Homo sapiens: one gene and its partner. The protein of the gene in region 2 purifies or fractionates together with the protein of the main gene of each other region. This does not show direct contact. Each region holds a gene or a part of one and is shown on either strand. Other genes may lie near its edges.

Region 1 (3,500 bases), on a different chromosome or scaffold from region 2:
TGGGGTGGGGTGGGGTCGGGGTGAGGCTGTGGCCAGCCATGAGATTCACAGTGAGGCTCTACCTAGCACCTGGCAGAGGAGGGGAACAGTGAGATCTGCCATTCACCAAGGCCAGTCCAGCTGCAGCCCAAGGGGTGGTCTGGTGTGGGGGAAATGCGGCCAGAAGGTAAGGCCTGGCTAAGGAGGCGGCGCCATGCAGACACTGGAGTGGACAGGGCTGCCGCGGCACCAGCTGGGTGCTGGAGGCCAGCGGGGGCCGCTCACGCTCCGCCAGCCCCGCCTCCCCACATGCACCAAGTATCCTGCCTCAGCTGGTGGGCTCTGGGCTCCCCCAGCAAAGGGACTTCCTTGCTCCTCTGCCTGCCCCATGTCCCCGGATGGCGCCGACTGACTGGAAGTGTGGCTGGTCAGGGCGCTTGGAGACAATCTCACCTAACCCCCCGGTTGGACAAATGGGGAGACTGAGGCCTGATGAAGGCCACAGGTTGGCCAGGGGCCACACAGGGCCTTCAGAGGGCAAGCCTCCCGACCCCTCCCTGGTGGGGCCTTGCCTCTCTTACTTGACTGTGCCCATCACCCCATCAATGCCCCGGGACACCCCAGGACCCTCCAGAACAAGGCCAAGGTTCACACATTGCTGGGCATTTGGCAGCTCCCGTGGCAATGTGTGTCCCCAGGAGAGGGCCCGGGGCTGCAGAGCCTGGTGTGACCAGGCCCCTTTGGCCTGCGCTGCTGTGAATGTGGACAAAAAGCCACTCCGGAGATGTCACCAACCGCAGCACCTCGCTCAGCAGACATGGGTCTGGACACTGGCCCAGCCTCTTGCTAGCGTGTGACCAAGGGAAACTCCTTAACCAACCCAGTGCTCCTCATCTGCACAATGGGGGCGCCGCATGTCTCCTCTCTCACTGTCCCTGAGCCCCACTGTCCTCAGCTGGGCAGAGGGGAGTGGGCCTCCCAAGGGTGGTGAGACTCCAATGCAGATGCTGAGAGCCCAGGAGGCATGAGGGCCTCTCATGCACCTGAGTGGGGCCAGCAGGCTGGCTGGGCTGGGGCTGGGCCTCCCGGAACCGGGCGCCTTCAGACCTGGCCAGAGAAGCCCGAGAGGGCAGGCACCGGCAGAAGGACAAGGCCACACTCACTTGGTCACGAACGCCAGCAGCAGGGGTGCAAGGGCCTTGGGGAAATAGTCCTGCTGCACCATGTGGTTCAGCGCCATCAGGGGGCCGTACAGGTTGGCAATGGCCTTGACCTTGTCTTCACTCTGAGAGGAACACAGCGAAAAGCGGGGTGAGCTTCAAAGTCACCTGGGGGGGCCCCTGGACTCCACCATCCAGACTCTGCTGATAGTGCCCACAACTGAGTCTAGCCGGAATCTCATCGTGAAGACCAAGGCTGCTGGGGCAGACCCAGGCCTCGGGGCCCCGTGGGCGAGCCGGCTCAGGACTCGAGGTGAGGGAGGTTGGCGGGCATGGCTGGGGCAGCTTCTGTGCAGACCCCACCCACCTCCCTCCCGGGCCTGCTGTTCCTTCCGGCCTCACCTTGAGCAGACCCATGTGCACGAGCAGCCTGGTGAGGAAGGTGTTGGAGTTGAAGGACGAGGAGTTGAAAGCCTTCTGCATCAGGGCATCTGTAGGGCAGAAGCAGCAGGGGCAGGCTGCTGGCTATGGCAGAGGGCTGGGCCAAGGCACCCAGGGTTCCCCCAACACCGCGCAGACACAGGCTCGCCTGCCTCCTCGCCCTGACGAAGAGGCGAACACGAGAGGGACGGCAGAGACACAGGAACCAGAGGGAGTGGCAGTTGGCATCAGGGGATGGGCTCAGTCCATCTGCCAGCTGTGACACTCTGGCCCTTGCCCATCCTGGCCTCAGGTATAAAATGGGCATGGGGATGACACCCACTGTGCCCACCTCACACCGTGGGAATGGAGATTTCCTGAGGCAGGCTACCACTGGGGAGGATTCAGGTTATTTTGGCAGGGTGAGGGGATGTGCAGGGACTGTGCTAGGCTTCCTGGGAAACAGAACTAGGGCAACTTGTTCCCAAAAATGCCCACAGGCGGGCCCTCAGGGAGCAGGCTTGTGTCTGGCCCCCACCTCCTTCCGAGCCTCATTTCCCACTGAGCCGCCCTCCCCGCTTCGACGCCACGCCGGGAAGAGGCACCACATGTCCTTCCACCCCTTTCTATCTTTTCCAGGAACCGTCCCCCTCGCCTCAGGGCCCTTCCTCCCCTCTGCCTAACCGGAACTGGCTCAGGTTTCGTTAGATGTGGAGGCTCAGTCAAGCACATGGAAACAGGGTGGAAGGTGACAGGTGCTGGAATGGAGGAAACAGACAGGGTGGGGAGAGGGTTGTGATAGGGCTGGAGGGATATGGGCTGGTGCTCCAAGGAAGCCCCCATAATGTTATGGGGAAAGGTGTCCTCTGTGCAAGGAACCTCCAGGTAGAGTGGACGTGAGCACAGAAGCTCCAAGGTGTGGACAAGGGCTTGGCTCTCACCATCCCTCCTCCCGATAGACCTGCGTCCATTGGGCTTGCAGATGTGACTATCTGGACTTCCTAGAGCGGGCTATGGGTTCTAACTGTACATGGCTGTGTGGATTTGGGAAAGGCCTCAGTTTCTCAGTGGTGAAAAACAGGGAGAAGAGCAGCCAGCTGGCTCCACGGCAGGACCCTGACGGAGGAAAAACTCAGGTGGCCAAAGAGCAGTTCCCATGAGAGCGCTGGGGCTGACGAGTTACGGCAACCACGAAGGATACCTGGGGCCCACGAGCATCAAGGGACAGAGGGCACCCAGGTCTCACCCAGCCCACATTACCTACTGCATCCTGCACTGCCATCCTCACAGTAGCTTCGTCCTTGAACACAGATGACACCTTTAGGAAGGCAGAGACCACCTTCTCGGGGTCAGACGTGTCAGTCTGAGGACAAAAGAGACAATGGTTGGCCTGTGGCACGTGGTGGAGAGGTACCTGGGCTCTGACGCTAGCTAGGAGAGGCCTGGGCAGTACAAAGGCCCCTGGCGGGCAAGAACAGGTCCTGCCTTACCCCATGCTGTCCCTTCAGAGTCTGGCTTGGATTTGGCCTGCAGCAAGCACATATGCAGCATAGAGAGGGAATGAATGAGTGAATGAACAAGGATGAAAAATCATCCCAGCCGGGTGTGGCGGCTCATGCCTGTAACCCCAGCACTTTGGGAGGCTGAGGTGGGAGGATGGCTTGAGGCGAAAAGTCTGAGACCAGCCTAGGCAACATAGCAAGACCCCATGTCAACAAAAAGGAAAAAAATTAGCCAAGGTTGGTGGTGTGTGCCTATAGTCTCAGCTACTTGGGAGGCTGAGGCAGGAGGACTGCTTGAGCCCAGGAGGTCGAGGTTGCACTGAGCCATGATTGCACCACTGCACTCCAGCCGGAGTCACAAAGCAAAACATTGTCTCAGAAAAAAAAAAAAAAAAATCATTTCAGGGATCCAGTGGTCCCCATCTTGTAATTGAACTTG
Region 2 (4,788 bases):
TGGACAGAACAAGCCCAGTGGGCCTGAGCAAAACTCAGGCAAAGGCACCACTGGCCACAGAGGTTTCTGGCTGGAAAAGCAACACCTCTAGGATCTTGTAACACGGTGTTGGTCAAACCTCTTTGGCACACACATCGCTTGGGTCTGAGCCCAAATGTCTGTTCAAATCAGTCCACCACTCACTAGCCATAGGGCTTTGGTAACGTTAAGAAGCCTCACAATGCTTCAGTCATCTACAAATGGGAGTGGTATGTACTGCATCACTTAATGTGAGGTTATCAGAGTTTACACGTCAAATGTTTAGGATACAACCAGACACACAGAAGATGCTTGATAGATCTTAGCTCTCATTACATGCTTCAGTAGCATCACATGCTTGTCTTTTGCAAGACTTATCAGAGCTGGACTTTCAATACTTGTGTGATGTTGACTATCTCTCCTAGTAGGGACTTGAACCAGGGATGATGAGTGATTTGCCCACAAGTGTGTCCCCAGTATCTAGCATGGAGCTTGGCATATAGTTGTGCTGAATATTCTCCAGTTGCCTCTCCAGATCTATCCCCAGCCTCCCCTGGCTCTGTGCCCCAGGAGGCTGAAACCTCTGTGGATCGTCAAGCGGCTCCCCAGTCATTGAACTTCTGGTTGGGTTTGGCCAATGGGAGACACTGGCAGGAGATAATAGGGTGGACAGAGAATGAGATTGGGATATTTATTTCCCTGGCTTTCTCTGCCAGGCCACAAGCTGATGTAGCTGTGTCTCTTTCTTAGAGATCCCCATGCATCTCAGGAAACCACAATCCCAACTATTCTCCAGGACAGGTGAATGTCTGGTAGTGCCTGGCCCCAGGATGCTTCACCCCTTCTTCTGGTCCCCATGCACCTATAAACTGTGCCTTCCTTAAAGTCTGCTCAATTATTCCAGTTAATGTACCATGTCTTTCCTTCTAGAACATTAAAACAAGAGGTTCTATATCAACATTTGTTGAATACATGAATAGATGTCTGTTTTACCACATGAAGATAATAATCTTCAAGTCCAAGCATGGCTACAGTTGTCCTGATGAGTTAATAAGAGACAGGAAATGATCATACATTTTTTAAAGATGATGTTCTCGAGTAGTAGTTCTCAAACGTGGGTGTGTATGAGAAACCTGGAGGGCTTGTGGAACCCATATAGCTGGCTCTACTCCCAAGAAATGCTGATTTGGCTAGTCAGGCCAGGGGGTGAGGGATAATAATTTGCACTTCTAACAAGTTTCCTGGTGACACTGACGTTTCTAGGCTGAAGGCCACTTTGAGAAACACTGCACTAGAGAAATGCCAGATGCTTTTGTTATTTATAGACCCCAAGCCTCAGGGTTGCATTAACTATCTTTAAAGACATAAAGGGTCAAGTACAATATAATCTGTTTTATTTTACACTTCTCTGATTATTGAAATCTAAATAGAGGTTTTTGCTAACAAACAAAAAGGAAAATAAAAAGACAGCAAGGACACGATTAAATGTTGAGTGCAGATGAAGGGTTGTATGAGGCCCCATCCTGGGGAGGCTGTACACCTTCTTGGCACAGCAGCAGTGTGGCCCACGGAGCTTGAACCTGGTGAAGACAGCAAGTAAGCCACAGCTCAAGAGTTCTGAGGCTTGGGAACAGAAAAGAGCTCCTTCCTGCTCCACCCCAATCTGGGTTGCATGGGCATGGAAAAGAGCAAACACACCCTGCAAAGCATACTGGACATGCCTCTTCTTTACCTTCTCAGGCCAGAACACCCTCCTCTCCACAAACGTGTGCACACTTGCACGCTCATTAAGCATGTGCACACATCATATTCACACACTCAAGCCATGCTCTTGATTTCAGGGCTCTATTGCAGGCTCAGGTATCAACCCCAGAGCCGAGGTGTGTGAGAGCTACCTTAGCAGACTCACAAAAGGCTACTGCAGAGGCAGGGGTCAACCATCCCAAGGACCTGGCAAGGGAGAAACTGAATTCTGTATCCCACTGATGTGAGAGGAAATTCTAATGAGCAAATGGGACCAGCGGGGCCCAGTTAGGGAGGTCCAGATGCCAGTTCTGAGATGCCACCCAGCTCTGCCTTGCTCTTCAGTAGCCAGTCAGTGAAAAAGCAGAGTGCCAGGAGGCCAGTACCGAGCAGGTCCCCCAGCCCTGTAAGGTAGGGGATGCAGTGGTTGTCAGGATCCAGGGCCTGGTGCCAAGTCAGCCGAACCATCACTTCTGCGAGGTACAGCAGGATTGTCACCTGTCAGAAGGGCAAAGAGACACAAAAGAAGACCAAGTCAGAAAGTCAAGTACAGGCAGGAAGCACTAGCTGAGGCTCAAGGAGAGATACCAAGGTGGACAGGTCAACCCCAGCCAGCCTCCTTCATCCAGCTTCTCTTGGGGTCTGAAGCCCAGCTCCGAGCTCAAGCAGTGGCTAGAGAGGTGACCCTCATCTGTACTTACCTAGCCTCCCTCTAGTGGGCCCAGCTTCTGGCACCCTGAAGGGCCAATCAGACCCACTGCCACTCACCAGCTGGGGCTCTCTCTGCTGCGATAGGCTCTACTCATGGGACTTTGCCGAGATGTCCATTTGGGTTTGCCTGAGCCCTTCTCCCCTGGAGGTTAGGACAGTCAGCCCTTCCTGAAGGTGCCATGGGGTAGTCCACACAAGCCTGCTCAGGTCTCATGGCTCCTCAATCCCTTGTCCAGGCTAACCCCAGCTCCTTCCTTCTCCCCAACTGGAGTCATAAGCTGCTGCTGCTCAGGACAACTTCTGGGATTTCCCTAATCCTACCCTTTAGGGTCAGGAACATACCACAATTACAAATGCCATAAACTCTGGGAGATGAGAAAGTGCCAGTACCAGCACCACACCCATAGAATTGCCCTCCAGCGCCCACGGTGCTCCCTGCAAAGGCCCCAGACCCACTGGGGACCATCAGCCCGCTGCAGTCTAGGCAGTGTGCTGAATACCTGCCCAACACAGGCACCAGCTTAATCTCCTTCACCATGCTTACTGCTGTCCAGCCCTGATCAATGTCTACGCATGCCTTGCAGCAGCAGACCCTGCAGGGGTCTGGCCCTGCCCACCCACCGTTGGGGAGGCAGTGGATAGCTGGACCACTCCTCAGCCTGTTCCGTGGGAACATGCTTCATCCTCAGGGCTGCTCCTCTTATCCTGTGATGATGAATGTGCTGCGCGCAGTGTGTGGCATGTTGTGTGCCGTGTCTAGCATGCAGTACATAATGTGACGAGTGATGTGCAAGATGACATGTGTAGTATGCAGTGCAGTACGTAGCGTAAGCTGTATAGCATGTAGCATGCAGCACACACTCTGTAGCATGCATGTGGCATGCACTGTGACATGCAGTGTGTAGTGTGTGTGGTGTGCACTGTGTGGTGTGGAGTGTGTGGTGTGAAGTGTGTGGTGTGGAGTGTGTGGGTTGCACTGTGTTGTGGAGTGTGTGGTGTGAAGTGTGTGGTGTGGAGTGTGTGGGGTACAGTGTGTGGTGTGGAGTTTGTGGTGTGGTGTGGAGTGTGTGGGATGCGCTGTGTGGTGTGGAGTGTGTGGCATGTAGCATGTGGTGTGCAGTGTGGAATGGCCTCTGTATTTGACAAGTTGACTCAACTCCTGGAAGATAAGGACTGTGCCCCACACGTCCAGCCACCCCCACCCGCCTCCCTCAGCCTCTCACTCAGACAAGAGATCAAGCCTGCTGGCTGACTACACAGCTGCGCACCTCTAATTGCTGCAGCCAGGCTTACCTGGATCAGGCCTGCCAGCAGGTAGAGCACCACAAAGGTCTGGCTGTTTATGACTGACTGACCCTCCACCAGGTAGATGATGTAGAAGAAAATCAGATGGCCTGGGACCACCAGCAAGAGCAGGACTCGAGCTGACATGGAATTGATTTCTGAAAGAAACAGAACCAAGAAGGTCATGTGACCTGAAGCGAGGCCACTTTGGCATGTGACAGTCCTCAGTGAGGCATCCACACTCACTCATCCATTTATTCCCAAGTGTTCACTGGACACCTACTCTGTGGCAAGCATATTCTGGCAGATGGGGATACAGTCTTTCCCCTTCCCTCGTGGAGCTGATATTTTAGAGAAGAGAAACAAGAATCAAGTAAGCAGAAATAAAAAGAAGCAAGAAAGGCTATTTCAAACTGTGACAAGTACTTTAAAGAAAATAAAGGTAAAAAGAAGGGCAAAAAGCAGGAAGTGTTTATCAGTGGGGATGAGCTCCTGCAGATGACATTTCAGCTGGGATTTGAATTTGGGGGAGAGGAGTTTGAGCAGAGAAAAGAGAACATACAAGGGGCTTAAGGAGGAAAAGAGCTTTGGGTATGGTGCTTCACTCAGTGCAGCGCTGGTGATCTGGGGAGGGCAGTCGGCTCAAAAGGGGACCTCGGGCAGCCCCTTCTTCATAGCAGCCTCTGTGGCCCTGTCAGCATACCTGCAATGTGCCAGTGAGCCCTGGGTTTCCTTTAGATTCCCATGCTCTGAGTTTGAGACTTTACAATAAGTGTGATTGACCCTGGCCCTACCACAAATACTTTTTAAAATTCTAACATGAATATGATTGATTTCTCAAAATGGAAATAGACTTCTAATGAAAAGTAGGTCTCCATTTGCCTCTGAGTTAATATATGTATTTCACCAAAATAATAAAAGGAGAAAAAAGGTCACATGTAGCTCAAAGCTAGTGCAGAAGAGCAACGACATCTATTCATGATGAGAAATCAGACATGGAATAAAAGTATTATTTTAAAAAATGTCAAAAAG

Evidence for each region.
Region 1: the proteins of SLC41A3 (region 2) and RANGAP1 purify together in Homo sapiens (affinity purification with mass spectrometry; one large-scale study listed by BioGRID and IntAct). This does not show direct contact.

Annotation. Positions count from the first base shown.
Region 1 is NC_000022.11:41,248,188-41,251,687, forward strand, and holds part of RANGAP1 (ran GTPase-activating protein 1), read right to left. Parts: intron 2,923-3,500; coding exon 2,820-2,922; intron 1,631-2,819; coding exon 1,542-1,630; intron 1,265-1,541; coding exon 1,143-1,264; intron 1-1,142. UniProt on the Homo sapiens protein: GTPase activator for RAN. Converts cytoplasmic GTP-bound RAN to GDP-bound RAN, which is essential for RAN-mediated nuclear import and export. Mediates dissociation of cargo from nuclear export complexes containing XPO1, RAN and RANBP2 after nuclear export.
Region 2 is NC_000003.12:126,004,967-126,009,754, forward strand, and holds the end of SLC41A3 (solute carrier family 41 member 3), read right to left. Parts: intron 3,915-4,788; coding exon 3,766-3,914; intron 2,260-3,765; coding exon 2,050-2,259; 3' UTR 1,599-2,049; coding exon of another isoform or gene 1,441-1,598; 3' UTR 1,391-1,440; downstream 1-1,390. UniProt on the Homo sapiens protein: Na(+)/Mg(2+) ion exchanger that acts as a predominant Mg(2+) efflux system at the mitochondrial inner membrane.